7 linked regions of the Homo sapiens genome follow. The protein of the gene in region 4 purifies or fractionates together with the protein of the main gene of each other region. This does not show direct contact. Each region holds a gene or a part of one and is shown on either strand. Other genes may lie near its edges. The genes, in order: ADCK2, TAP2, ABCB9, PTCHD3, SLC12A6, CYP51A1 and ST7L.

Region 1 (3,478 bases), on a different chromosome or scaffold from region 4:
CTCTCGGAGAGCGCAAGGGCTTGACTCCATTCGCTGCCTGGTGGTCTCTAAGACGAGCAACATAATCTATGAAGGTGCAGGGATAAACTGTGATTTTACCTAAAAAAAAAAAAAAAGAGAAATTAAGCTTTACAAATACCCCCCCTCCAGGCTGACCCCGGGCCCCTCCTAGTCAGCCAGACGGCCACATCAGCTCAGCTCTGAGAAGAAAGCCCGTGGTTGGGCCTGGCAGAGAGGGGCAGGTGGTGGTCACTGCAGGTCTGTCCCTGGGCGCTGCCATGGAGAAGAGGACACACTGGTTATATTAACTCTCTTCATATTCACCAAAATTAATGCCTGCAAGTGGACAGGCGCAGACACTGTGGCAGAGAAACTGTAGTTCCGGACTAGCGGGTGAACCCGGGGCCATGTTAAGGAAGTGGCCAAGCCGTTCTGCTCACGTCCCCGGTATGTCAGCCACTTTCATCAGTTTTGTTTTACCTTGTAATAAAAGTTACCAAGGAGTTAGCAAAATCTATTAAAAATTACCAAGAAGATAATTTGAAGTACAATGAAATTTGCCCTAAGTGTATATTATGCTGGCAGGTAGCACCTGCATGATATTTATACATAAAGAGTGTGTGTGTGTGTGTGTGTGTGTGCACATGCCACAGATCAGTAGGACTTGATGGCATTTTCTAACCTGAATATCAAAGTCTGGGAACTACCAGCAGTACCCATCTGACCAGGGAGTATAGCGGGTCAAGAAATGAGAAAAACAGGAAAACAAAATAAATTTATTCGTCCTCCTCCACATAACATTTTCCCTGAAGGAGAGTGTCCCTGGCACCTGGCCCAGCTTCCACAATGGAATGGATAGGCCCCTTCCCTCCTTTTACTCCCTAATTGGCCCAAAGCTTTTGAACAGACCCTCAAACCAAGCAGAGGAAGCCATGGTGTGCCTTCCACCACTGGAGGGTTACATTTGAAATTGGTGTCCCAATTTTAAAACGTCCCAGCTGCCATAGGAGAGGCTCTTGGGAGTGGCCTCCAGCTCTTGACAAGGGCCCACAGAGGCCACTGCCCCATCACGGGGGGCACACTGGGCCCGTGAGGAGGAAGGGCCTCGCTGCCTCCAGGATGTCCAGTTTGGGGTCCAGTGAGCGGCCAAGCCCCTCCAACACCATGATGGCAAACACAATGGAGGCAAAGTTGCTCTCAAGCTTTACCTGGAACAGAAAAACAGAACAGTTCATCTCAGAACATGCTGATACAGGGACGTGTGTTCTGGATAATCACCTTGCTGTCCACTCTCAGCCTCCCTCAGACCTGCCCACGGGATGTTTACCATCTACCTGACATTCTCTTCTCTACCGCGTCATCTCCCCAACCATCTCACCTACTCGCCCAGCCTCCCATCTACTGGACACACTAAGGAAAAATCTAGGGGTGCGGAATATACTTTTCTAGGTTTGTGTCCATGTGTGTATGAATGAATGACCAAATAAATCTTTCACACACATCCCAGAAACTATACATTTAAATACAGGTAATTCTTCGAAACCTACAGTAACCTTTATGTATGTATGTATTTATTTATTTATTTTAGAGACAGGGTCTCACTCTGTCACCTAGGCTGGAGTGCAATGGCAAGATCATAGCTCACTGCAGCCTTGAGCTCCTGGACTTCAGGGATCCTTCTGCCTCAGCCTCCTGAGACTGGGACTCTTTTTTGTAAACAGAGGGTCTTGCAATGTTGACGAGGCTGATCTCGAACTCCTGGCCCCAAGCAATCCTCCCACCTTGGCTGCCCCAAGTGCTGGGATTATAGGCAGGAGCCATGTCAGCTGGTCTACAATAGCCTTTTTAAGAGACAACACACAGGCCGGGCGTGGTGGCTCACTCCTGTAATCCCAGCCCTTTGGGAGACCGAGGCGGGCGGATCATGAGGTCAGGAGATCGAGACCATCCTGGCTGACACAGTGAAACCCTGCCTCTACTAAAAATACAAAAAATCAGCCGGGCATGGTGGCAGGCGCCTGTGGTCTCAGCTACTCGGGAGGCTGAGGCAGGAGAATGGCCTGAACTCGGGAGGCAGAGCTTGCAGTGAGCCAGGATGGCTCCACTGCACTCCAGCCTGGGCAACAGAGTGAAACTCCATCTCAAAAAAATAAAAAAAATCAGAGACAACACACAATTGACTGCTCAAACAGGGTACAGCTGTCCCTTCAGAGCCAGATTAGTAGTAATAGCAATTGACATGGATTCTTCAACTATTCTTCAAAAGTATCATCGTTATCCCCATTCTATAGAGAAAGAAGCTGTGGCTCAGAGAGGTTCAATGACTTGCTCAAGGCCACTGAGTGAGGAGGAATAGAGCCAGATGTAAACCTAGAAGAACAGGAATCTGCTTTTTAAGTGGACAGAAGGTCAAGAAATGGAAGGTTGAATCATGGGAAATATTCTTTGTTAGAAATTAAAGAGTATTTGTCTCCGTTAAGGGCTGGAAGGTTGTCGGGGTCAGGTGGATCCAGAAGCAGCAGCATGCTCCCAGGAGCAGCTTGTGGAGTTCCAGCCTGGCAGATTGGCCACACAGGCTCTGGTCCGGGTGGGAACCCAGGGCTCTAACACCTCTGGGAATGCTTTCATTCTGAAGCTGGGTGGGGGGTTCTTAGTGTGGATTAGATTCCTTTATCTCTGTGTTACTGTCAAATACTTTATTTAAAAAAATTAAGTGCTACCTGAATAGATATTTCTTCTAAGGAAGATATATTATACAAATGGCCAATTGGCATATGAAAAGATGTTCAACATCATGAATCAGTAGAGAAATGCAATCAAAACCACAATGAGACATCACCTCACACCCATTAGGATGGCCACTAAAAACAAAACAGAAAATGACAAGTGTTGGTGAGGATGAGAGAAACGACCCCTTGTGTACTGTTGGTGGGCATATAAAATGGTACAGCTCCTATGGAAGTTCCTCAAAAACTAAAAACATACCATATGATCCAGAAAACCTACTTTGGGGCATATGTTTAAAAACTGGAAAGCAAGAACACAATGTATAGACCTTACTGGCTACATTAAATGTTTTTAAAACTTTTCTAAAATTTGAAAGTAGGATCTTGAAAAGATATTTACACATTCATGTTCACTGCAGCATTATTCACTATAACCAAGAAGTGGAAGCAACCCACGTGAACATCAACAGCATCAACAGAATAACAGGCCAAGCGCGGTGGCTCACGCCTGTCATCGCAGCACTTCGGGAGGCCAAGGCAGGTGGATCACTTGAGGTCAGGAGTTCGAGACCAGCCTGGCCAACATGACGAAACCCTATCTCTTACTAAAAATACAAAAATTAGCTGGGCATGGTGGCACTTGCCTGTAATCCCAGTTACTTGGGAGGCTGAGGCACGAGAATTGCTTGAACCCAGGAAGCAGAGGTTGCAATGAGCCAAGCTTGCACCACTGCACTCCAGCCTCGGTGACA
Region 2 (4,191 bases), on a different chromosome or scaffold from region 4:
AGATGGTGCCCAGGTGGATGTGGTGTCCATCTCATTCCTGTCTTTCTGAGGCACTGTGATCACCCCTTCAGCTGCAGGACTGGAATTCCCGTGGGGATCGCACAGTGCTGGTGATTGCTCACAGGCTGCAGACAGTTCAGCGCGCCCACCAGATCCTGGTGCTCCAGGAGGGCAAGCTGCAGAAGCTTGCCCAGCTCTAGGAGGGACAGGACCTCTATTCCCGCCTGGTGCAGCAGCGGCTGATGGACTGAGGCCCCAGGGATACTGGGCCCTCTTCTCAGGGGCGTCTCCAGGACCCAGAGCTGTTCCTGCTTTGAGTTTCCCTAGAGCTGTGCGGCCAGATAGCTGTTCCTGAGTTGCAGGCACGATGGAGATTTGGACACTGTGTGCTTTTGGTGGGGTAGAGAGGTGGGGTGGGGTGGGGTGGGGGCTGTCTGTGTCCAGGAAACTTAATTCCCTGGTGACTAGAGCTTTGCCTGGTGATGAGGAGTATTTTGTGGCATAATACATATATTTTAAAATATTTTCCTTCTTACATGAACTGTATACATTCATATAGAAAATTTAGACAATATAAAAAAGTACAAAGAAGAAAAGTAAAAGTACCCATTGTTTCACTTCCTGGAGATAACCATAGTTGCTATTTTGCTGCCTGTCCCATCAGTCGTTTATCTGTTGTTTGAGATAGAAATTAACCAAAAATGACATAAATATTCATGAGATTGCCTTCCTATATCCTTCCTTGTTCCTACCAGTGTCTGCTATTTTGAAGAAGCTAGGGTCTGGAGGGACAGAGAACAGTTCCCTGATTAACAGTATTAATAGCGACATTGGTAACAGCTACCATTTATAGAGTTTTAATGGGAGTAGGAGCTATGCTAAGTGTTTTTCATGTATTATCGTTTTTAATCATTATCCCCAACCCTATGAGGTTGGTTATTATCCCCATTTTACAGATGAGGAAACTGAAGCTCAAAGAGGCTCAATGACTTTCCCAAGGTGGTCGTAGTGGTGGAGTTGGAGTTTGAACACAGGCCTGACCCTAGAGTCCACACCCTGACCCAATCAATTATATTGCATCTTGGGTCCATAAACCCTAATCCATAATCCCATCAAGAAAAGCTCTGCTGCTCTTAGCTCTAAATAATTCAGAATCTATTCTCTTCTCTCCAGTCCCGTTGTTATAGTCTTCACTCATAGACTTAAGATGATCCCATCACCAGAGAGGTTTCTCTACCATTAGCTTCCCTCTTCCGGCCATTCTTCACAAAGTCATTTTTCTAAATTCTGTGTCACATACGATGATGGCATTTCTGGAAATTCCTTCAGGTGCTCTCAAGCCCTGCTGCAGAGATCCTTTTCAGAGCACACACTGTTCCAGCCCATCTGTCTCACCCTCTCCTGTTGTATCCAGCTCCACGACAAACTTCTGCCTTCCCCAACACCTTTGTGCCTTTGCATATGGTGTTTTCTTGCCCATTTTCTGCTCGACTCGCCCCTGATTTTCAAGTTCAAGACTTAACTCAGGGTTCAGGTCTTCCAGGAGGCCTTACTTATGTCGTCAGTCTGGGGAACTCTCCATGTGCTTCTATCACTGTGCGGTTACCTCTTTCACAGCCCTTTTAAAGTTCTATCTTCCCTTTCCCACCTTTTTTGACCTTCCACTAGACCATGAGCACCTGGGCGGAAAGCCATATATCTTATTAAGCTTTATATCTGCTACCTGGCCGAGGGCCTAATTCATAGTGGAGAATAAATAGTCAATTGAATAAATGAATAAATATCTCCACCATCGTACTAATCTTAATCCTCCCTGCCCACTCCCACCACTGAAAATGCAACATTGTACACATCACTGGTTGTTGGGAGGGACTTACCTTGGAAAGTTGCTATTCTAGGAAAGAGAAACCTTCATATTCCTGGAAACAGCAGGTAGTTTCCAGTGCTGGCAATGAATTCCCCAGAACTGCTGTTTTGGATTTTTTCTTGCCTGGCAGCTGTTGGGAGCAGGGTGCAGTGAGGATGGGGTGAGAGTGGGCAGTTTCTTGTGCAGATTTGCCTTTCTTTCATCCTGGGGCTGACTTGCAGCTCCACACCCATCCATCTCTCAAATTTCACAGAGGGTAAAATAGGCATTTGGAGAGAAAGAACTCTGGCCTGATTCCTTTCTCTCCCACAAATGTCCTTTATTCATAAAACAGGAATAATAATTCCTGTATCTCCCAACTACATGGAAGCTGCAGCCCTCACAGAAGAAGATGATCTGAGAAATTCTTTGATTTCCTCAGTACAGTTATACCCATGCATCATAATACTTTAAGCCTGGAAGGCATCTTAAAAATAATGCAACAGTCAAACCTAATTTTACAGAGAAACTGACATGAAATCACGCAGCTAATCATGATAAAGCTGGGTGGAAAACTTATCTTGATGGGCAGTACAGGAAGATGCAGTAGACCTTAAGATGTCCTGAAAGTTTCTTATCTCAGGGGAAACTCCCAGGTAGGCTTTATGTCAGGGACACAGAAAAATGCTCCCTGAAAGTCAAAATATTCGGGCTAGACAGACAAATTCCTGTAAGTGTGGTTTGTCTGGGAACCACAGATGTCACTAATCCTGGTTTGCTCCAGAGTTCTTTTTGTTCACTCCTACCCCCCATCACCATTTGATTGATCTCCTTACCCTGTAATTTCCCCTTCTTGTCGCTTACCTGCAGTATCTTTCCCACCCAGGCATGCCTTATTCTTTCTAAAGGAAAGTATGAATGGAGAGGGGAAAGCTTGGGAAACTGATAGATTTCCTTGGATGCCAAAACACCTCCATAGCCTGTCTGCCCGGCCCTATGTGGAAACAGCATTGAGTTTCAAGTCCTTTATGCCTCCACCCAGGGATAGCCACTTGTAATCCACATGGCAATTGTGAAACAAGCAGGAAATGCGTAATTGTCAGAATTTTGTGGGGAAAGGACTAGGGAATAAGGAAAACAAAGATCTTCCTTGTGTTTTAGAGCTGTCAGCTAGAGGAGCACCTGCTTGAGTCTGATGCCATCTAATGGTCCCAGAAGAAACTGGGTTTTGAACCTAGAGTTCCATGGACTCTTAGGAATTAGACTACTACTACTACTAAGCATTCACTGGTGCTTACTATGTGCTATTGCTGTGCCAAGTATCTGAAACCTGTCTTCTTACCTTATTTTTCAAGATAATTCTATGTGGCAGGTATTACTATCTCAATTCTAAGAGTGAGAAAATGGAGTTTTAGAAACATTTACTAACTTGCCTGGGTCACATAGCTAAGGAAGAGGTGGACTTGCCCAGCTTTGCATAAAACTCCTCAAAAGAGTTGCCTATACTCCCTGACTCCACTTATCTTCCTACTATCCTCTTTTTAAAATATATTATTTATTTATTTAAATAAGCAATATATGAATGTGGTTTGAAATTCAAAAGACACAAAGAAGTATACAGAGGAAAGCCTCACTCTCAATCCTTCTCAAGGTTTGCTAATTCCTCTTGCATAGGCAATCCGTTCTTCCAGCTTTGTGTTTATCTTTCCAGAGAAGTTTACTGTGTATTAAGCAAATATGTATATCTTTATTCTTGCTCAGTATTTTCGCAAACAGCAGCTGTCTAAGTTCACTGTTCTGAACTTTATTTTTTAAATTAAAAATATATGGCTATGTAGTATTCTATTTTATGGAAGTTCCATATTTCATTTATCCTGTTTCCTTCTACTGATGGCTAGTTAGGTTATTGGAAGTCTTTTGCTGTTGCTAGTTAGTCTTGTATAGACATTGTAATGCACATGTGCAAAAATACAAGTATGATACAATCTTAAAGGGGAGTTGCTGAGTCCAATATATACATTACAAATATTGATAGATATTGCAAAATTGCCTTCATAGAGGCTATATTAATTTATAGTTCCAGCAGCAACATATGAGTTTATCTGTTTCTCCATATATATATATATGTATATAACCAACAGACAGTGTTAATTTTTAAAATTTTGACAATCTTCTGGGTGAAAGTAGCATTGTATTGTAGTTATCATTTGCTTTTTAATATTATCATGTAAGTAACAGAGATACTAAACCCAGAAGGATAAGGGAGCAAAGATGAGAAAAATAAACACACACACAAACAACAATAACAAATCTGTCTAAAATATTGGAAAATCAGAATGAGAAAT
Region 3 (4,736 bases), on a different chromosome or scaffold from region 4:
GAAAATGCTACCGGGAAGTGTTCATCTAAGGAAAAGGGTCCCCAGCAGAGGGCTGGGCCGTGTGGCAGAGGTGATAAGACTGCTGAGGCTAATTGCTGGCAATGACAGCAGCTGGTGCCAGCTGACATTGGCTCCAGGCACTTACATGCGTCAGCACTCACCAGAGCCCTATGAAGTAGGTCCTATCATTATCCCCATTTTACAGTTAGGAAAACTGAGGAACAGAGAGATTAAGTGACCTGCCCTGGGTCACAGAGCTAGGTGACCCACAGAGTTGGGTCACAAGCTGGGATGTGAACCCTGGCCGTCCAGTTCCAAAATCTGTACTCTCAACTCCATAGCTCCAACCCTTCAAAACAGCCTCTCCAGGAGGTAGGCACAACCCCTACTAATGCTGAGAAGGGGTCTGAGATGCAGAGGGGGAATGGAGTGGGGGGATATAACAACCTCCAAGCCTGGGCCCTGCTTTCACCCCCACACCTCCAGGCACACCGAAGCCCATCGCAGAGATGACAGTTGCTTAGTCAGCAGCTGCCCCTCCAAAGACGGTCAGGGCCAAGCAGGGTCAAGGGCAAGGGGAAGTGGGTAGGATGGTCGGACACCCTCAGCCCAGGTCCTGGCTCCCTCCCCAGCCCTGCCTGTGCTGCCCACGCAGGCTCCTGTCTGCTGCAATGCAGAGGCCGTGGGGAGCGAGCGAGTGGGTGAGCTCCAGTCAGAGCCCAGGGAGGGAAGCTCCTGGCCTGGTGCCATTCCAGGCCTCCCAGCCAAGCCACTGCCGGCTGCACCAGGTGCTGCCAGCCGCCTCAGCTGCTGCTCTCCTCGTGGTGGGCACATGGGGTCCCTCAGTCCCCAGAAAGGGGCTCGGGCTCAGAAGTGGAACAGGAGGCAGATCCGCAAGAGACTCAAAACCTGGACAGCAGCCCAGGGGCTTGGCTGACTCTCCCAACCTGACTCCCAGCCTCTGGGGGAATTCCTTCCCCATCCCCCAACAGCCCAGGGTACCAGTCATGCCCCCCGCCTCCAGAAGCCTATTTATCTTCATCAGAATAAACAAAATTTCAAACACTCATATCGCAGACTACCAAAGCCACATTTTGCAGATGGGGAAACTGAGGCCCACAGAGGGAGGGGGTGAGGCTTGTCTCAGGTCATCCACCAGGCTGGGGCAGAGCAGTGCTAGCACCTGGGTCCCTGCCCCCAAGCACTAGTCCTTCTACCACAGACTCCTAGCAGAGTGGACTCCAGCCCCGGGTCGGGTTACAGTCCTCGGTGGGGACAGTTACTCCGTTATTTTTAAAGCTACTGGGCAGAAGCGTGACCACCAGCCAAGGCTGCTTAGAGGCCTGTCACCGCTCTCCAACTGCCTGACTCAGAGGATGCGCTGGGCTCGGCCAGGTGGAGCTGGAGGGCAAATTGTGAGCACATGGGTGACCTGCTTGGCCTGAGGGACAAGGACAAGGTGGTGGCCAGAATAGGCCCCACCCAGAACCGGACAAGGCCCAGGAAGACAGGGGTGGCTCGCCCTGACTCCGTGCACTAAAGAATGGCACAGGATAAGCAAGTGGCCTTGTCCCCACCAGGGGTCTTGTCAAAGGCTTTTCTTCCCAGGGTAGGAGACATTGGTTGGGGTATCTCTAGGCATCAGCTGCAGAGAAGGCCAGAAGACGATAGATAGCAGTTATTATGACGCTGCAACAGAGACCCTTTGCAGAGAAGGCCAGGAGACAATAGATAAAAGTTATTATGACACTGCAACAGAGACCCTTCACCGGGCCCTACTATGTGCCTGGCACCTCCCAAAGCAGCCAGGCCTCCCCACTTCCCTGGGAGGACCCTGTGGTCATCAGCTTCGTTTTACAGCTGGGGAGACAGAAGAGGTTAAGTGACACGCAGAAAAAGGACGAAGGCAGGATGGAGACCCGCATCCAGGGTCTCCAGGATGGAGACTCGGGGGTCCCCTGTCCAGGCTATTCAGGGATTGCAAGAAAAGGGGCCAAAGAACTTGGGTGGCCCAGTGGCCTCGGTTCACCCCTGACATGGTGAGCTTTTTACCCCGGTGTGGGCCCAGACCCAGATAAGCCCATTCCATTCGCTGCGCAGCAAAGCACTGACTGACAGAGGCCTGCTGGGTGGGAGGGCCTGACTGTGGGGGTCCCTGGCTCTGGGGCAGGAGCGGGCTGGGTCTGCGTGGGTCCATCCTGATTTCATCCCTGCTGAGCCTCTGGCAGCCCACGTGGGGCCCAGCCTCACTCTGGGACTTGAGAAGCTGTCTCAGGTGCTCTCAGCTCTAGGAGAGGCAGAGAGGCGCGAGGTGCCCTCCCTCCAAGCCTCCTCTTGTCACCCGGCCCTGCACTATCCGGAAAAGGGGAATGGGCAGAGGCGGGGATCCTGTCAGCCCAGCTTAAAGCTGTCTCAGTTAATGTCAGGCCGGGGGAGGAGGCTTTTTTTTTTTTTCCAGAGGCCCAGAAATAAAAGAGGCTCCCCTGGGAACCTACAGGCCTCACTGCCAGCGTGGATGGCGGGGAGCAGCGGCAGCCCACTGGCCTGCTGAGGAGACTGAGAAAAGGGCTTTGCCCAGGTCAGCAGGAACAGGCCAGATCCCCCAGGCTTCTGCCAAAGCCCTGGTGCTCAGGATCCCTGGGAAGCCCTGACATGGACAGTGGGAGCCCTCAGAAGGCGCGCCAGCCCCGTCCTGGGGGAACGACAGCCATCCCAGGATCCTCCAACACCTCCCACATTTTCCAAGAGGCAGCGGCGCCTTGGGGGTTAAAAAAAATGGCAACATTCGCCCTACGGGCGCGGAAAGGATGCTGCAGGGATGGGGGCTGGGAGCTGCGGCTGCGGGCTCCGGGAGGGCTCCAGGGAGGCTCCCACCTTCAACCGAGATGCCTATTCCCACCGAGGCAGGGGTGCCCAGACGCCCCCCAACGCGTGCCTGGCCTGGCACCCTGGCCTGGAAAGGTCCCAAAACCAGGGGTCTAGGGTGCCTTGCCCTTACCTGTTACCTGGCACCAGGTGAGCTCTGGGAGGGGGCGCGCAGCAGGCTCGGGTCTGGGGTGCAGTTTCCGCGCTGCTCATTGAAGACTGCGCCGGACGCGGTCCTCGCTCCGCTCTTCCCGCTGCTCCTCCCCGCCTCCCACCCGCGCTGCGCCGCTGCAAGGTCGGAGCTGAGACTGGCGTGCGTTGAGACAGGCTGATGGACGGGGCGGGGCCTCAGTGACGGAGGGGGCGGGGATCCTGGGGCAGGGACCGGCGGAGCCTCCCGGGAGGGGCGGGGCCTCAGGAGGAGTGGGCGGGCTTTCCTGGACGGGGCGGGGCCCCCGAGGAGGGGGCTGGCGAAGCCTCCGGGTGGGGACGGGCCTCCTGGGGGCGGGGCCACAGCTGGCCACCTGCTCACCTGTGGCAAACTCCTCCCACATCTGGCCAACCAGGCCCTCCACACTGCGTGCTGGCCTCCACCTGGAGCCACGGGCCCATCCTGAGGGGACGGAAATGGTTTCACCTGAAGGAGGCCAGCTTTTTAACTGGCCTTTTTCCCTGGAGGGACAGCCAGCCAGTCCAGGAGGGTGGGTTATGGTCCTCATTCATTCACTTATTCTTTCATTCGTTCACCCAACAGATATTTATCCAGTGCCTACGGCGTGCCATATGCCCTTTTAAGCATTTGAAATTAAACAATTAACAAAACAAGATCCTTGCCCTTCTGGAGCTGACATTCTAGTGAGGGTGTCAGACAACACATATAAGCAAATGAGATATATTGGAAGGGAATACATTTTACGGAGAAAATTGGTGCAAGATCAGGGATTCGGGGCATTGGAGAGGGGAGGCAGCGATATGTCCTCAGTGACTGCCAGGTGCTGGGAACACAGCTGTGTGTGAAAAGACAGAAAACTCCCAGCCTTCATGGCGTGAAGGGGACAGAACATCAGCAAGTAAGTGCATAAGGCCATTCAGGTACTGGATGCAGTAAAATAAATAAAATTGTGTAAGTGAAAGGTGAGAAGGCGTGAGCCACGGGGAGGGAGGAACATCCTACGCTAAGGCCTGCAAGTTCAAAGGCTCTGAGGTGGGAACCAACTTGGCCACTTGAGGACCAGAAAAGGGTCCATGTGGCCTGAACCGTGGGAAGTGGGTGGGGGAGTGGACTTACGGCCCAGAGGGGCAGCAGGTGGGGCTAGAACTGCCCACATCCCTGGATCCTCTGATCAGAGGCTTTGTTTTTTCCTGAGACAGAGACTCCAGGATGGAGTGCAGTGGCGAGTTCTCAGCTCACTGCAGCCTCTGCTTCCCAGCTTCAAGTGATTCTCCTGCCTCAGCTTCCCAGGTAGATGGGATTACAGGTGTCCGCTACCACGCCTGGCTAATTTTTGTATTTTTAGTAGAGATGGGGTTTAGCCATGTTGGCCAGGCTGGTCTCAAACTCCTGACCTCAAGTGATCTGCCCTCCTTGGCCTTCCAAACTGCTGGGATTAGAGTCGTGAGCCATGTGTGCCCAGCCCTGAACAGAGGCTTTTTGGAGCACTCTCTGAATTGGAAATGTCCTCTGCTACTTGGTGGGACAGCTTCTTTAGAGGGGAATTTGTTCAGAACTTACAACACTATGTTTTTTTTTAACCCAGAAGGAATTTCCTCTACAGATAGACTTGTGCAAGGGAGCTAAGGTACTAGCTTAAAGGTAGTTACTACAGTAGCAAAAGTCTGGAAATAACCTAAATACCCTTCCATAGGGAACT
Region 4 (4,145 bases):
GGCATGGTGGCAGTCTTAAAGCAGTAAGTCTTAAAGTGGCATGGGTGTTAAAGTGGTCACACTCTTAAAGCGGCCATAGTCTCAAAGCAGCAGCAGTATAAAGTGGTCACAGCCTGAGTTCCCAGTGTGAGAGTGTTTCACTGGATCTGGAGGGGGCAGAGCAGATTTTACTCAAAAAATATTGTATATGAAAATTAGCTGGGCATGGTGGCGCACGCCTGTAATCGCAGCTACTCAGGAGGCTGAGGCAGGAGAATGGCGTGAACCCAGGAGGTGGAGCTTGCAGTGAGCCGAGATCGTGCCACTGCACTCCAGCCTGGGCTACAGAGTGAGATTCCGTCTCAAAAAAAAAAAAAAAAATTGAAATGTGGCTAGGCATAGTAGCTCATGCTGCACGCACCAATGGGGGTGGCTCACAGTGTAATCCCACCACTTTGGGAGGTTGAGGTGAGAGGATCACTTGAGGCTAGGAGTTCAAGACCAGCCTAGGCAACACAGCAAGATCCTGTCTCTACAAAAAATAATAAAAATTAGCCAGATGTGATGGCATGTGCCTGTAGTTCCAGCTACTCAGGAGGCTGAGGTGGGAGGATTGCTTGAGTTTAGGAGTTCAAGGCTGCAGTCAGTTATGATTGTGCCACTCCACAGCAGCCTGGGCAACAGGAAAAGACCCTGTCTGAAAAGAAAAAAGAAATGTGAAGAAAAGAAAGCATAATAGAGGAAATGAAGGACAAAAAAGTTATAAGACAGATAGAACATAAATTTAAAAATGTTACAAGTTCTTTCTTGTCAGCAATTACCTTAAATGTAAATAGATTAAACTCTCCAATCAAAAGACAGGTTGGCAGAATGGATAAAACAACATGATCTAACTATATGCTGTTTACAGACTTACTTTATTGCCAAAAATATAAGTAGATTGAAAGTACATAAAAGGATACTCTACACAAATAGTAACCAAAATAGAGCAGGAATGGCTACACTAACATCAGGCAAAACAGACTTAGAGACAAAGGAGTACATTATATATTGATAAACGGGCCAATTCCCCAAGAAGCTATAACAACTGTAAACATATGTGTACTGCATAACAGATACCCAAAATATATGAAGTAAATATTGACAGAAGTGAAGGGGGAGATAGAGCGCTCTACAATAATAGCTGGAGAGGACTAGGCGTGGTGACTTACACCTATAATTTCAGCACTTTGGAAGGCTGAGGTGGGTGGATCACTTGAGGTCAGGAGTTCGAGACAAGCCTGGTCAACATGGTGAAACCCCATCTCTACTAAAAATACAAAAATCAGGTGAGCATGGTGATATACACCTGTAATCCTAGCTACTCAGGAGGCTGAAGCAGAAGAATTTCTTGAACCTGGGAGGCACAGGTTACAGTGAGGCAAGATTGTGTCATTACACTTCTGCCTGGGTGACAGAGTGAGACTCTGTCTCAAAAAAAAAAAAAAAAAAAAAAAGAAAAAAAACTGGAGAATGCAATATACCACTTTCATCAATGCATGAAACATCTGAGAAGAATATCAATAAGGACATAGAGAAATGAACAACACTACAAACCAATTAGACCCTACAGAATTATATAGAAGACTCAACCCAATGACAGCAAAATATACATTCTTCTCTAGTGCCCATGGAACATTCTCCAGGATAGATCATACATTCAGCTGTAAAACAAGTCTAAATAAATTTTAAATGATTGAAGTTATACAGTGTACGTTTTTCTAACCAACAATAGAATAAAGCTAAAAATCAATAATAGGAAAACTGGAATATTAACAAATCTACAAAAATGTAACAATACACTATTAAACAATCAAGAGACATTAGAAAATACTTAGTTAAGAATGAAAATGAACACACAACATACCATAACTTATGAGATACAGTGATAATAGTGCTCAGAGGGAAATTTATAGCTAAATACCCACATTAAAAAGAAAAAGGATTTCAAATCAATAACAACTTGTGGATCTAGGGAAAGGAGGGAAACCAAACCCAAAGCTAACAGAGGTGTGTTAGTCTGTTCTGCCCACTGTAACAAAATATCTTAGACTGAGAAACTTATAAACAACAGAAAATTGCTCCTTACAGTACTAGAGGCTGAGAAAGCCAAGGTCAGGGCCAAAGATTTGGTGTCCAGTGAGGATTTGCTCTTTGCTCCACAGATGGTGCCTTCTTGCTATGTCCTTACATGGTAGAAGGGGCTAATAAGCTCCCTCGGAATTATTTTTAAGAGTATCAATCCCATTCTAATCACCTCTCAAAGGCCCCACCTCATATTACTATCACACCAGGAATTAGGTTTCCACATAGGAATTTTGGGAGGACACAAACATTCAGGCCACAGGAAGAAGGAAGGAAAGAATAAAGATTAGAACAGAGGTGAATACAGAATAGAAAAACAATAGAATGAATCAATCCAAAAGTTGGTTACTTGAAAATATCAACAAAATTGACTAAATTTTACCTAGTGTCACGAAGAAAAAGAGAAGACACAAATAACTTAAGCTGACATGAAAGCGGAGACGTTACTACTGACCTTATAGAAATAGAAAAGTTTATAAGAGAATATTATCAAAAACTGTATGTCAACAAACTGGATAACCTAGATGAAATGCATGAATTCCTACAAAAACACAAATGACCTAAACTGACTTAAGGTGAAATAGAAAATCTCAAGGCCTATAACAAAAGATTAAACCAGTAATAAAAAAACTCCCAATAAAGAAAAGTCCAGGACCAGATTTCACTGATGAATTCTACCAAACATCTAAAGTGGAGGTAACAGGAATCCTTCTCAAACTCTTCCAAAAAATTGAAGACGAGGAAATATTTCCTAACTCACTCTGGGAGACCATCATTACACTGACACAATACCAGACAATGACATCATAAGAAAAGAAAACTACAAACCAATAGCTCTCATGAATATAGGTGCAAAAGTCATAAACAAATACTAGTAAGTCCAATCCAAAACGTATTAAAAGGATTATACATCATAGCCAGCTGGGATTTATCCCAGAAAGGTCATCGGGAGAAAGTCAGTCAATGTAACATACCATATTTATAGAACAAAGGACAATAACCACATGTTCATCTCACTAGATGTTTAAAAGGCACTTGACAAAATCCAATACCCTTTCATAATAAAAACACTAAAAAACTAGGAATATGAAGGAAAATTCCTCAAAATAATAAAGGCATTTATAAAAATAGTAAAACTAACATCATACTCAAGGGTGAAAGAATGAAAGCTTTCCTCTAAGATCAGATCAGATCAGAAACAAGACAGAAAAGACTCCCACTTTCCCCATTGATATGCGATGTTGTACTGGAAGTTCTAGCCAGAGCAATTAGATTAAAAAAAAAATAAAAAGCATCTAAATTGGAAGGGAAGAAATATAACTCTCCCTCCTCAGAGATCACATGATTGTATATATGAAAAATACCAAAGAATCCAGAAGAAAACTACTAGAGTTAACAAATTCAGCGCAGCTTCAGGATATAAGAGCAACACCAAAAAATTAGTTGTGTTTCTATACATAGGCAGTGAACAACCCAAAAAGGAAATTAAGAAAGCAATTCTATTTAAATAGCTCTAAATGAATGAAACACCTAAGAATAATTTTAACCAAGGAGGTGAAGGATCTGCACACCGAAAACCAGCAAACATTGGTAAAAGAAACTTAAAAAGACCTGGATAAATGGAAAGATCCTTAGTTCCTGGGTTGGCAGACTCAATATTTTTAAAATGCCAGTCCTACTCAAAACAATCTGCAGATTCAACACAATCCCCATCAAAATTCCAACAACCATTTCCCCCCCAGAAATAGAGAAGCTGATTCTAAAATTCATATGGAATTGCAAGGAGTCTAGGATGATCTATATAATCTTGAAGAACAACAAAGTTGAAGGAATCAGTATTATTCAGCCATAAAAAGCAATGGAGTTCTGATACACGCTACAAGGATGAACCTTGAAAATATTATGCCTAGTGAAATGAGCCAGTCACAAAAAGATAAATATATGATTCCACTATATGAAATCTTGAGGAAAATTCACAGAGACAAAGTAGATTAAAGTTAACTGGCACTGGGTTGGGGGTGGTGGTGGTGATGGGGAATTTA
Region 5 (4,886 bases), on a different chromosome or scaffold from region 4:
AAAGAGAAAAGGTAGGTCACTGAGAAAGTATAAAGTTCCACGAGAATAGGGCAAAGTCCTCTCTAATGGCCAGACTATTAATTTCCCTTTCATCTGGGTACCGGAGAATATTTAAACATTAAGTAAGGAATGTGTTATATAGAGAACCAAGCTTTTAACATCTGTAACCACGTAAACAAACATAAATTTCACTTAGATATGTCCCCATTTTTACCCCTGTAGTCCCATTTTTACCCCTATAGTGTAAAAGGATACCACTTTAGACTGTAAAGAATGCTTAAGGGTAACGTAAGAACCGCAGACTGGACAAGGAACCTGTTCTGCTGGTCTAACACATTACTAAGTCCACTTTTCCAAAGAATAAAAATACAATTCTGTAACATGTAAGTCACAAGTCTAACAAACTAAACTATAAATTACCTAATGATAATTACAATATTAAGAAATTAACACTGGTATAGTCTTTACCTGGAATTTTTACAACCTAAATACAGCATGATGGATAAAAACTAAAACCACAATTTGGAATTAATTTGGAGGAAGAGGAAATGATAAATTTGTATTCCATACTGTAATTTTAATCCAGTGTATGACACACTGTAAAATTTGTCAAAAAGTTGAAAACAGTAAAGTCTGAGAACCAACCTATGTCTCCATAAAAGAAAAAATGATTAGTCAAGGATGAGTGAATTCTAGGACTGTAAACTTTACCAAATCTACCTTGTCTCCAGATACTAAAAACACAAACAGAATTAGGGAACTAAAATCATTCTGGTTTCCTGAACCCTTTAGGTTAAAAGGAACAATATTTCCTGACACCGGAAAATGGTGAGTAAGCCTTGCTTTCACAAGTCAGTGGGTGAGGCTATGGTTTTCAAACTTGGGTGGAATATTATTTTAAGAGTCTTTAAGGGAAATTTTTATCATTAAAAGATTACATTAGTTACAACACAGCATAAAACTAAATATATAAAGCAGTACAGGTCTCAAACTTTTAAATTTCAGAGTCCAAAAAATGTTATGATCTCCCCATTTTCTCTCTTCTCTCTCTTCCATCACCTCTTCCCAGTACCTCAAATAAAACCAAGCCAGCTGACACACACAAACTGGTTTAGGAAGCTAAAGGTCTGTAGCAGTCAACATGAGCCAGGAGTGGCTTGTGTGCTACCTGCTAACTCTAATCATCAGACTTTCCATCTAAAGCTCAGAGAGAATAAATTACATGGGAATCAGGCCCTAAAAGCCTTTTCAGAAGTCTTCCATTTGACAGAATAGCACATTAGGTCTACCCACCATCACCCTGAGTGGGCTTAGCTACTTGTGTCAAGGTCTCCATAAAAATACAGATTTCAAAAAAGAATTTTGCAATACACATTCGAAGTCTTGGAGGAAAGCTGCTAAGATACGACCAGTAACTACTCCATGAAACCAGTCTTAAAGCAGACTGAAATAGCCAATGATGGCTACAGAACACATATCCAACTCACTAAATTTTAAAATTTAGGATTCTGTGTGCTGAAAACGATTACATTCTTTGATATTCACTTTTAACCAAAATACCCATTTCATTTCTAAGAAGACAAAAATGAGGAAGTTAAAATATACATTTGCCTTCCTTCTTGTCATACACCTTCCCACATACCAAATTACTACTGCAAAGAGCCACTATGCTATTATTCCAAAGAGTTCCTAAGCATCTCACAAAGAGATGCCTTGGTTCCTGATGACTATTATAATCATAATTATATGATTATGATCTTCCAGATCCATAGATGGTCATCTTGGATAAAGAACCCAGTAATGAAAGTATGCTGCGGTCTGTGTTTCTACTTACCCTCGATGACATCCTGGGGGTGAGAAGTCCGGTCACTGGGTGGATCCAGTGCAACAGTTGCCAGCGAAGTGGTGGCCCCAGACATCTCACTCATAGGCTCACTCCGGCTTGTTTCAGGCACGCTTTCCCGGGAGCTAAATCTTACTCGGGAACTAGATCGAGAGCTGAGGTCCGGACTGGTGTCTGACAAACCTGGAATGTCATCGATCTTTGTCGGTGTCACCATGAACCGAACTGAAGCCATCTTGGTGGTGGTTTCTGGAGGATGCATTTTGTTCTTTTTAAGAACAAAAAAAGTGGGGGGAACCTCGCAAAATCTTCCTCTTACGCTAGCTACTTTTGACTGCAATACAAAAGATAACTTGAAAAATAACACATTTCAATAACCTTGATTCACACCACACAAAAAGCCCCAACTAAGAATACTTCTACTCAGAATTCAAGCCGACTGTCCTAGAAAGTGCATCACCAATAGGTGAATATATTTTTTAAGAGAGAAAAAAACAAAAAACAAAAAGACAAAACAATGCCAATCTTGTGTGACTTCTTTCCTTCAGAATGAAGAGCTACCTAGCTAACCCCTCTGGTCCGGGGCTGAAGGCTCAGTGCCATGGTCTCAGGGCAGCAGATGAAGCCTCCCTCCCCTCAGCCCCCAGTTTCCTGTCGAGGTAGTCCTTTATCTGGTGAGTGTCCCACGGTTCTAGTTGGGCGAAGTGCGTGCAGGCAAACCTTTATCAGGCGACTATAGCGTGGATCAGATTGCTAAAAGGTGTACACCCGGCCACCTGTTGTGTATCAGGTGAATACCCCACAGGTCTGGCTGGGGGGAGGTGTATGCAAAGCCACCCGGTGTTTTTGATGTCGACAATCCACTTGGGTCTGGTGGGAAAGGTGCACATGCATAACGGGAAAAATAACCCACACTACTGAGAGAAGGGTGAGCAGAGGAGGATGCAGGGGCAGAGCGGATTCCTGTCTCCGAGAGGTCGGTGGGGGTGGCGCGCCCGCTCTTCTCCTAGCAGAAAGGTCCTCGGGGTCTGGGAGGAGGTTAGCGGATCAAGACACCTCGGACTGCAGCTCAGAGTCGTGGCAAGTCGTAGCTAGTCCACTGAGCCACGGTCCGCTCGCTAGGTTTCTCCTGCGTGTGACAGGACGAGCCACCCCCTTTGCCGGAGGCGCGTTCTCCCCTACCCCCGCCCCGGCGCAGGTCACCCCCTCGTCGTTCTTCCTCAGGGTCCCAGTAGAGGAGGAGACGGCCACGCAGGCTGGCCTGACTGGGCAGCAGGGTGAGGGAGAAGGAGGTCGCAGGTGCAGTATCCCGGCGCCAGCTGATGCGGGTGCGCGCGCAGCTGTTGTTTACTAGCCGGTAACTGTTTCAGAGCCGCGGCGCGCGCAGGGTTCGCGCTGCCGGGGCTGGCGCCCCCTCCCCGGCCCGACGCCAGAGCAGCAGTTACGTGACCTGGCCTCCCCCAGCCCCGGGCCCGACGGGGTGCGCCCGCGCCGCCGCAGCCCTTCCCTTCCCTCCCCGCTTGTTCCTCATTCGAGGTGAACCTTGCGAAGAGAAGCCCGGGGGTGCAGTGAGAGGGCGGAACCGTCCCGCGGGCGCCCGAAAGCCCCGCCCAGCCGCCGCAGCCCGCGGTGACCGAGTGCAGCGCGCCTGCGCTCGCCGCGGGACACGGCAGGCGGGGCGGGGCCGAATACGAGTGGCCAGGGGCACGACGGGAGCTGTAGTCCAGGGCACGGCCCGACCCGCGTGAAGAGGGGAATAATCCTTTTCCTCGGTCCGGCTGTGCTGCACACTCACTCTGGAAGCATCCTAGAGGGCGGGCGCTGCTCCTCACCCTCAGAACCCGGGGAGCCATTTCTCTTTCATGAGTGTCTCTGAAAACATCATTCATGATTTCTTTAACCAGAAACACCGCTCCTATACCTGGGAATAACCCTCATTGTAATTTTTATGTAGAGGTCTACATACAAATAAACCACTTTTATGTAAAAAAAAAAAATTAAAACTATAAAGTAGGCCTGGCGCGGTGGTTCACGACTGTAATCCTAGCACTTTGGGAGGCTGAGGCGGGCGTGATCGATCACCTGAGCTCAGGAGTTCCAGACCAGCCTGGCCAGCATAGCGAAACCCCGTCTCTACCAAAAATTCAAAAATTAGCCGGGCGTGGTGGCGTGTGCCTGTAATCCCAGCTATTCCTTAGACTGAGGCAGGAGAATCGCTTGAGCTTGGGAGGCGGAGGTTGCAGTGAGCCGAGAACGCACCATTGCATTCCAGCCTGGGGGGACAAGAGCAAAACTCCGTCTCAAAGAAATAAATAAATAAAAATAAAACTATAAAGTACCTTAAACACATTTGTCCTACTTTAATTTTTTGTTGTTGTTCTTGTCCTTTTAATAAATGCTATGTCCACTTTCTAGTCAGACTGAAAGTTCCACTAAATAATACGTTTTTTTATACCTGGAGAAGACGTTGATGTATTTTCTCAAATCCATTCCATGTTTTCACCACTACATTTGTCGCTAGAATATTTTTTCTTAGTGTTTATTTAATGTATAAATGGTGGTGTTCGATAAATTCTGACTCACCAATGTTTTGTTTGAAAAGCTATTTCCTATAGCTGTGATCAAGACCTCTAAATTTAACAATCACCTGGGCCCAGAAACTGGCCCCCGGTTTTGCCTGGGGTCTTGGCTCCTCACAAGTGGTTATGTTTAAGCAGCACTCCTAGCAATGGGAACTGTATTCCCGGAAGTTCTCTTTTATCAAATGACACACAAAGTCCAAATCCTTTCAAGGATTAAAGGATCAAAAAGGTTAAAAAGATCCTGGTAACAAAATGAGAAATCCTAATGTAAAGTGTAAACCTCCTAAAGTTTGACTCTTTATAAAGTCTGGGTTTCTTGATTCAGGCCCACAGCTTTCATCCATCCTCAGCAGGATCAATTTTTTCCTCAGGCAGGCCTGCCGTTCATTCAAACTTCAGACTTTTCCTTTATAAAGAAACACAGAATTTTTATGAAACCCAATTTCCTACCAGTGTATCTG
Region 6 (4,145 bases), on a different chromosome or scaffold from region 4:
TATCTGACTCTAAATGAATAGAGTCTAAATGAATATATATATCTGAACAGAGGGATTTTCCAGGGCCCTGTTTTTTGGCCTTAAGGAGAGGCATTCATTCCCTCATTCCCCATCACTAGAAACAAGATTTAATGTTAACTCTTAACTGCTATACTAGGGTACTGGCTAATGTGTGTTACATTCACAGCCAGAGCCCATACCAAGCATTGGGGCCAATTGTCTGATTTGTGTTCTATATCAACTTAAAACAATTTCGTATTTGGCTTTTGAGGGTAAAACATACACATAGATGTACCCCACACGTGAAGTTGTTGCATTAAAAGAGGACTTCTGAAGTCAGCAATCTCTAAACAGCGCTTATGTTAGAATTTCAGGCAGGAATGGGTAGGCAGGAAGTCCTTTTGATGAAGTAACAGCATTGTCTAATAACCCTTTCAAATTAAATCCCAGTATGCTAAGTTATCATTGATTCCATTATTTGTACAGGAAGCCCTTTAATATTGTTTAGCCATGACAGCAAATATAAAACTAAATACCCATTACTTATCAGTTATCCATGGCCTTTCTTCTCATGATTCTTCAGACTTTTGAACCAAGGAATAAACTGGTTCTACATTTTATTACATTTTTGTTTGGTTGGTTTCTGTGTGTGTGTGTGTGTGTGTGTGTGTGCGCGTGCGTGTGTGTGTGTGTGTTTGGTTTTTTGTTTCTGTTTTTGAGACAGGGTCTCACTCTGTTGCCAAGGCTAAAGTGCAGTGTTGTGATCTCGGCTCACTGCAACCTCCGCCTCCTGGGTTCAAGCGATTCTCATGCCTCAGCCTCCCAAGTAGCTGGAATTTACAGGTGTGCACCACCAGCCCCACCCAGCTAATTTTTGTATTTTTAGTAGAGACAGGGTTTCACCATGTTGGCCAGGCTGGTCTTGAACTCCTGACTTTGAGTGATCCACCCACCTTGGCCTCCCAAAGTGCTGGGATTACAGGAATGAGCCACCATGCCTGGCTGTTTCTACATTTTAAATGTATAATGTCTCACTATTAGCTATAACTACTGAGGTATAGATTTGTCTTTATTTATGGTAACAGTGTCACCTACTGGATTAGGCACATCGTATGCAACTCCCTTCCCAAACACAGGTGTTGTCAGGCGACTGTAGACATCTTCTGCATTCAGGTCTTCATTTTTACTATTAAAAAGCAGTGCAGCAGCATCACTCCCCAGAAGGTAAGTAAATGTCTTGCCTACCATGGTAAAACTAAATACAGGTCCATACTAAAAAGAGAAAAGTACATATAGTGATGTTACAAAAAATATGCAACACTACGACAGTAACTTTTTAAAATCACAAAATAATGCATTATTAAAAAAATAAAAACATATATAAACCTTAAAGCAATTCTTTTCATCTTGCCATACTCCTCCTTCCTTTGTCCAAATTTATAATTATGTTCATTTAGTTGCAAATGTAGTATAAATATAACTGTTTATTATGCTTTTTTCAGTTTATATTGACAATGTTTTCTATTGTCTATATAAACATCACAATGTTAATTTACTGACTACTCTTTCATTATTGGACATATGGGTGATATGTCAGGGTTTTCTTTAGTTATTACAGCTAATTCTGTGATGAACACCTCTGAAAATATAGACTTCTTCCCCCTTTGGTTAAAAACAAATTTTACAAGACTAGCCAAAGAATTTGACCTTTTCTATAGTACCTGCTATGTGAAGACACTACAAGTTTATTTATCTATTTTAGCACTATCTCACCTACACTAAATGACTTCATTTTTTATTTTATATTAATTTGGTTAGATGTTAAATACTTTCCCTTGCAGTTTTCTGGTTATGATTGAAGACTAGACTCTGGGGGTATAATCATGAAAAAAAATACTGTCCCAACTCACCAAGCTTAGTCTATTGGAAAAAATACAAATTAATCAAATAATCACATTAACAAACATAAAACTGCAAATGTGACAAGTATTACAGAAAGGAAAGCAACTCTGTGATGAGAGAATCTAAAAAAGGGAGACCTAATAGAGGAAAAGACAACTAGGTTGAGACCAGAAGAATGAGGAGCTGGTTTGGTAGCTAAACATACACAAAGGCCCTAAAAGTAAGAGAAAGAGAAAGGAGGAGATGAGAGTTGAGCATTAGGCAGTGCTAGACCATACAGAGCCTCATAAGCCATTTTGAGGAAGTTTTTAAACGGGTGACAAGAATTTTTCAGAGAAAAAGGAAAGATGCCATTGAAAAAGAAGTCAACAATACACTGAGAAAACAAATAAAAGTAAAAAGTTCCTGAGACAAAAGAGGGATGGAGAGTTCAGCCTCCGATAAGAGGCAAAATATAGTTGTAATAAAATCAAAGTGGTAGAACGCAGTGAGCCAGACTGTCCGTGTTCAAATCCCAGCTCCTCCACCTACTTGCTGTATGACTTTGGTCCTATAGTCAGAGAACTTAGTCTCTCTGTGTTTCGTTTCTCTCACCTATAAAATGGTAATAATAATAATAGCAGTTCTTCACAGAGCTGCTGCCAAATTTTATATACAGGGCAGAGAAGAGTACCTTGGCTTACTTAGCATCTTAATGACTTGTTTTCCATTATTGTTATCATTAATAAAAGTATAGGCTCAGAAATCAGACCATGTGTAAATCCTGGCTTGGCCACTGTCTAGCAGTGAGTCCAAGAAGAAATTATATATCCTCTCTGCTTCTCAGTTTTGTCATCTATAAAACAAATATACCTGAAAGGGTTTTTGTGGAGCTTCAGTGAGATGATCTTTGTAAAGCACTAAGTACTGGCATAAAGTAAGTGTTTGATAATTATTACTGTGATAGGAAGAAAGAGAATAGGATTACTATATAAATACAAGTAGGTTTGCATATTTGAAATTGAGAAAATGAGGAAGTTTTCTTTGAATGTTTTAATAATTGTCTCCTAAATCAACGTTTTTAATCATTGTCTCCTAAACAGGAGAAAAAATCATCTGCTTTGATGGAGAGGTAGAAAGATTCAGAAGTTTAGAAAAGTGAAGGTTTGAATTAGTCACTGTAATGAGTGGAAAAGTAGGCCCAATCACAAGAACATAATAGGACTGTGGAGCAGTGTTCAAATATCATTAAGGTAGGCAATCATAAAATCAGGAAGAAACTAATCTGGTGCAGAAGGAGACAATAACTGGCTGCCTCCAAGGGTGACTTCTGCCAGCTGAACACAATGAAAAGATGCGGGGTCGAGGAAATTTAAAGTACAGTATTGCCAAGAGTGTAACAGAAACGACATGCCATGGACCCAAAGCGGAAAGAGGAAAGTGAAGAATGAAGGCTGATGGATCAGGAGAAAGTAAATGGAATGCAAGATCCAATGAGGTCAAAGAATAGTTATAATTTAAGGAGTTGCACAAGCAAACCAGGAGACGGTATGGTCTACGAATAGGATATCTAAATTAATATTGTGGAAGTGAAACAGTTAAGAGTGACAAGTCCAAAGCGAGACTGTGAAGTAAATGGCTTAACTGGCACAGGGAAGCTCATTAGAGAGAAGACGGGCAAATAATTGAGTAGCTATGGTGTCATGTGGGTCATTCAAGTGGACAGTGAAATCACAGAAGATGTATAGAGCAGGTTAGAAAACCCCACAGATGCATGGTAAAGAAAAATGAGGGTTAATTAATATCAATTTTAATGACAATAAGTGAATAGAAAACTCAGAACAGTGGCTTTTAAACCATAGTTGCCAGAACTACAGGTTTCCTCAATGGTGTCTCAAAGACGACCCCAGGACATGGGAAAAGCTAAAAGGATAGGTATCTATAAGACACCATCTCTTAAACCAGAGCAGTTTCCATTTTGTTTCCTATACTGAGGATATGTATATGATTACAATGTTTTTAAATGTTCTGCCACTTTTTTAAAAAAGTTTAAAAAGCACTTCTCTAGTTGTTTTTTTTTTTTTCCTCTAATTATTTGGAAGACTTACCTTCTCATATGCATTTTCTAGAAATTCAATTGGACTTTTCCCAAATGCTATGGCATGCCCAAGGAATGGAATTGGGGAGAAAATGTATGGAGGACTTTTCTACAAGAGAAAAAAATAGTAAATTCAATTCGTGTTTCATTTCAAGAGAGAAACCCA
Region 7 (3,500 bases), on a different chromosome or scaffold from region 4:
CTGGGCCTGTAAGCCTACATTAATGTATCACAGTACTGGATAGGATATTTGATATCTCTTACTTAGCCCAGAATCTCAAATGATAAGGAGCTGTAGTTAATGATATGTAGCATTTTGTTGAACTTTACAGTGTAGATCTCTGTTAGTCCCTGGGTCTGTAACAAATGGACTCATCCTTGTGCTTTTCCATAGGTGCCCTGATGTTTACTGACATAAATCAAGATACTATGTGGCTCTATAGGGGATGCTGAACCATTTGACAGTCTAGGTGCACACAGTCACCTCACATTATTTAAGCCCTGATCTCAGCATTCTAATTTCTCTGTATTCCCCAGTGTATATAATGTGTACTTGCTTGAAATTCCTTATATATTGCTTGTACATTCCTGCTTCTAAGTTTCAGCACATACCAGTTCCCTCTATTTAGAATGCCTTCTTCTGACTGCCCTCAGTCAGTTCATAAAACACATAAAGCTATCTTTTAAAAATTCAACTCAAAAGTCACCTCCTGTGGAATGCCATCTCTGCTTAATCTCATTAACCTAATTCCTTTATTCTCAGACTTCTGCTTCCTAGTCCATTAAACTGTTTCATTTTATTGTAATTGTTGCTTCTGTATATTGTCACCCAGTAAGCATAATTATTCTAGGAATGATCATCTTCCTCCAGCCTCTTGTGTCTACTTATTACACACAAATATTTTGAAGGCCTATTGATGACCTTTTCAGTTTCCCCAGAGTTCCAGTTCACCTTCCTTACTGTTTCCTTTTACTTCATAGTTACATTCCTAAAGAAGCAGCGCATGTGTTCAGGGTTGGCCTCCACCTCAGCATGTGTGTGGCAGCCTGCTGAATAGATCCCTACAATTGGGAAGGAGTTAACCCTCTAGCTTGACAATCTCTGCATTCTACTTAGACACCTTCAAGAAGTAGATGTGAGACCAGGAGTAGACCTGAAAATGGGAGTAGGTAAATTTCCACGGAAAGCCAAGTTAGCTTTTTCCTTCCTTTATACACAAGACCTATGAAGCTGCTGTCATCAGCAGCTCATTCAACACTCTCCTGCTCTGCCTCTTTTCCAGGAGTCAGGGTTAGTTTAAGAAAAAGCCTCTTGCAAGAAGCCATGACCTCGTACTTTTATCCCCTCCATCTGGTGTGTGGCCTCATGGGGCTGTGCTGCTATGCAGGAGGTGAGCAATGGAATTCTTTAGATGATGACTTCTGAGCCCACATGCAGAGGCAGTTGGGGGTGGGAAGCAGGGAGAACAGTGAGAGCCAAGATCGATGGACCAAAAAATAAAGTCTGCCTTGGGGAAGTCCTGACTATAGGTAGACTGTTTTCATGAGGTGTTCTTCTCCTAGCTCAAGTAGGGGCCCAGGTCAGGGAGCTGCAGCATCCCAGAGCTATGATTGATGAACATTGTACTTTTCCCTTCTGTCTTAACAGTTGGGGTGCAGGATTAGGATAGGTAGCCTATGCTGTCTCTAACAGAAAACATTACAGGATTGAACAGAAGAGTTCCCCTTGCATACGTCATCTTTTGGAGCTGCTCTTACTCACTGTCTTGCGCCTAAACAGAGGTCCAGATTTTGGATGGGAAAACAAAGAGGGGTTGAGAGCAGCAAGTGTTTGATCAAGTGAAAATCTGCTGTCTGCCTCATCTCATGGGTTTCTCTGCAGGATTGAGACCCCTTGCCTTGGTGTACACAAATTGCTTGCATCAGCTTGAGATCCCAGGACCTTTGCCAGGCCACGGGTAGGCATCTGTCTGGCTTGGGATGGGAGTTTCTTAGGACACTTATTCCCTCATCTTGCTTTCCTAACCCAGGAGTTGACGTCATTTTTAAAAGGAGTGAAATCTCAAAGAAAATTCTAATACATACCTTCTTTTTTTTTTTTTTTGTGACGGAGTCTCGCTCTGTCTCCCAGGCTGGAGTGCAGTGGTGCATCTTGGCTCACTGCAAGCTCTGCCTCCTGGGTTCACGCCATTCTCCTGCCTCAGCCTCCCCAGTAGCTGGGACTACAGGCGCCCGCCACCAGGCCCGGCTAATTTTTTTGTATTTTTAGTAGAGACAGGGTTTCACCGTGTTAGCCAGGATGGTCTCAATCTCCTGACCTCGTGATCTGCCCCACCTCGGCCTCCCAAAGTGCTGGGATTACAGGCATGAGCCACTGCACCCGGCCTCTGATACATATTTTCAAAGCCTTAATAATTTTCTGTCATGACTACTTCTACTGTGTCTATACATTTAGCATAATTTCAAAAGGACTAGATAAAATTTTTAATGTTAATCTGAAGGGGAAAAAAGGAGTAGAATTAGGAGCCAGAGTTGTTTAAATGTGGAATATGTTGTATAGTGGTCACATGGTACTGGTGGTAATAGTGGCAGAAATGGCAAAAGAGCCATTGGTTGATAAGGTTCAGGAGGGCCTAGGCTGTTCCTTTGTAAACTGTGCTCAGATATACTCTCTTGGCTGTCCTGGGACTCCTACAGGGCTTGAACATTTTGTATCAATTTCTGTTTTGAAGGTGCTGGGACTCTGGTGCCCCCAACCCTGGGCATCCTCAGGCTTTGAGGAGAATACACAGGATTTGAAGTCAGAAGACCTAGGTTTGAGTTCTGGCTGAGCCACGCACTGTTCATGTGACCTTGGACAAATCACCAAATTTTTCTGAACAGCATCTGTAAAGTGACAGTAACCCCTACCTCACAGGGTTGTTGTGAGGATTACATATATGCTAAAGCATTTTGCATATGAAAAAGCTTCTTATGAATATTGTTATTCCTAGGCAAACCCCCCTTGGAAGCTGTCAAAAAGGACAACTGTAGATGAAATTGTCTTCCTTTTTTCTTCATTCAGCTTAGCCTTTCTGTTTGGCCAGGGCTACTTACAGGGGCTGTTGGGGTTGAAGTCAAGTCACCGCATTTTGGCTCCTTTGGTCAAAGAGAAAGAACTCTAATGTCCAGCTGCTCCATCGATATACTCATAGAATGGAAGTGAGCAAAGGAAAATTTTAAGCCAGGATAGTTAACCGTTAGGGGGCCAGTGGGAGAATGCTTGCCTTGCATTTGCACATCCAGAATGACTAAAACATCTTAAGTAAATGAGGAATAGCCACCGAGATGCTCAGAGATAATATAAGCCATGAGTGGGAAGTGGGAAAATGAGTTTGTCAACGCCCTCTCTTTTCTATCCCTTTACCTTTGAGGTCAGGGACAGGGCATATTACTGACACCCCACTGGCTATTGCCCTATACCTGCCAATCACCCAAAGAAAATAATAGCTTCTGAGAAAGCTCAATTCACTGTAGCAACTGTGATATATTTACCCTAATAAAGCCACCACTTGGTCTTTTCCAGTGCTTCTCTCTTATGGAGATCATCCCTGGAATCCAAAGCTCTCCAGTTTTCTAACCCAGTTAAGAGTTAAAAACAACCACAGGTCATGAGCAGTAGGCTTGGCAGTTATACCCCATGCAGTCATAGGAGACTGCTCC

Evidence for each region.
Region 1: the proteins of PTCHD3 (region 4) and ADCK2 purify together in Homo sapiens (affinity purification with mass spectrometry; one large-scale study listed by BioGRID and IntAct). This does not show direct contact.
Region 2: the proteins of PTCHD3 (region 4) and TAP2 purify together in Homo sapiens (affinity purification with mass spectrometry; one large-scale study listed by BioGRID and IntAct). This does not show direct contact.
Region 3: the proteins of PTCHD3 (region 4) and ABCB9 purify together in Homo sapiens (affinity purification with mass spectrometry; one large-scale study listed by BioGRID and IntAct). This does not show direct contact.
Region 5: the proteins of PTCHD3 (region 4) and SLC12A6 purify together in Homo sapiens (affinity purification with mass spectrometry; one large-scale study listed by BioGRID and IntAct). This does not show direct contact.
Region 6: the proteins of PTCHD3 (region 4) and CYP51A1 purify together in Homo sapiens (affinity purification with mass spectrometry; one large-scale study listed by BioGRID and IntAct). This does not show direct contact.
Region 7: the proteins of PTCHD3 (region 4) and ST7L purify together in Homo sapiens (affinity purification with mass spectrometry; one large-scale study listed by BioGRID and IntAct). This does not show direct contact.

What each region holds. Positions count from the first base shown.
Region 1 is NC_000007.14:140,692,393-140,695,870, reverse strand, and holds the end of ADCK2 (uncharacterized aarF domain-containing protein kinase 2), read right to left. Parts: intron 1,209-3,478; coding exon 1,068-1,208; 3' UTR 761-1,067; downstream 1-760. UniProt on the Homo sapiens protein: The function of this protein is not yet clear. It is not known if it has protein kinase activity and what type of substrate it would phosphorylate (Ser, Thr or Tyr).
Region 2 is NC_000006.12:32,824,915-32,829,105, reverse strand, and holds the end of TAP2 (antigen peptide transporter 2), read left to right. Parts: intron 1-71; coding exon 72-200; 3' UTR 201-3,691; downstream 3,692-4,191. UniProt on the Homo sapiens protein: ABC transporter associated with antigen processing. In complex with TAP1 mediates unidirectional translocation of peptide antigens from cytosol to endoplasmic reticulum (ER) for loading onto MHC class I (MHCI) molecules.
Region 3 is NC_000012.12:122,963,289-122,968,024, forward strand, and holds the start of ABCB9 (ABC-type oligopeptide transporter ABCB9), read right to left. Parts: upstream 3,176-4,736; 5' UTR 2,999-3,175; intron 1-2,998. UniProt on the Homo sapiens protein: ATP-dependent low-affinity peptide transporter which translocates a broad spectrum of peptides from the cytosol to the lysosomal lumen for degradation.
Region 4 is NC_000010.11:27,407,441-27,411,585, forward strand, and holds part of PTCHD3 (patched domain-containing protein 3), read right to left. Parts: intron 1-4,145. UniProt on the Homo sapiens protein: May play a role in sperm development or sperm function. However, does not appear to have an essential role in spermatogenesis or male fertility.
Region 5 is NC_000015.10:34,334,576-34,339,461, forward strand, and holds the start of SLC12A6 (solute carrier family 12 member 6), read right to left. Parts: upstream 3,207-4,886; 5' UTR 2,757-3,206; intron 2,442-2,756; exon of another isoform or gene 2,178-2,441; 5' UTR 2,106-2,177; coding exon 1,835-2,105; intron 1-1,834.
Region 6 is NC_000007.14:92,127,785-92,131,929, forward strand, and holds part of CYP51A1 (lanosterol 14-alpha demethylase), read right to left. Parts: intron 4,089-4,145; coding exon 3,990-4,088; intron 1,273-3,989; coding exon 1,096-1,272; intron 1-1,095. UniProt on the Homo sapiens protein: Sterol 14alpha-demethylase that plays a critical role in the cholesterol biosynthesis pathway, being cholesterol the major sterol component in mammalian membranes as well as a precursor for bile acid and steroid hormone synthesis.
Region 7 is NC_000001.11:112,525,142-112,528,641, reverse strand, and holds part of ST7L (suppressor of tumorigenicity 7 protein-like), read left to right. Parts: exon of another isoform or gene 1-2,530; coding exon 2,531-2,629; 3' UTR 2,630-3,500.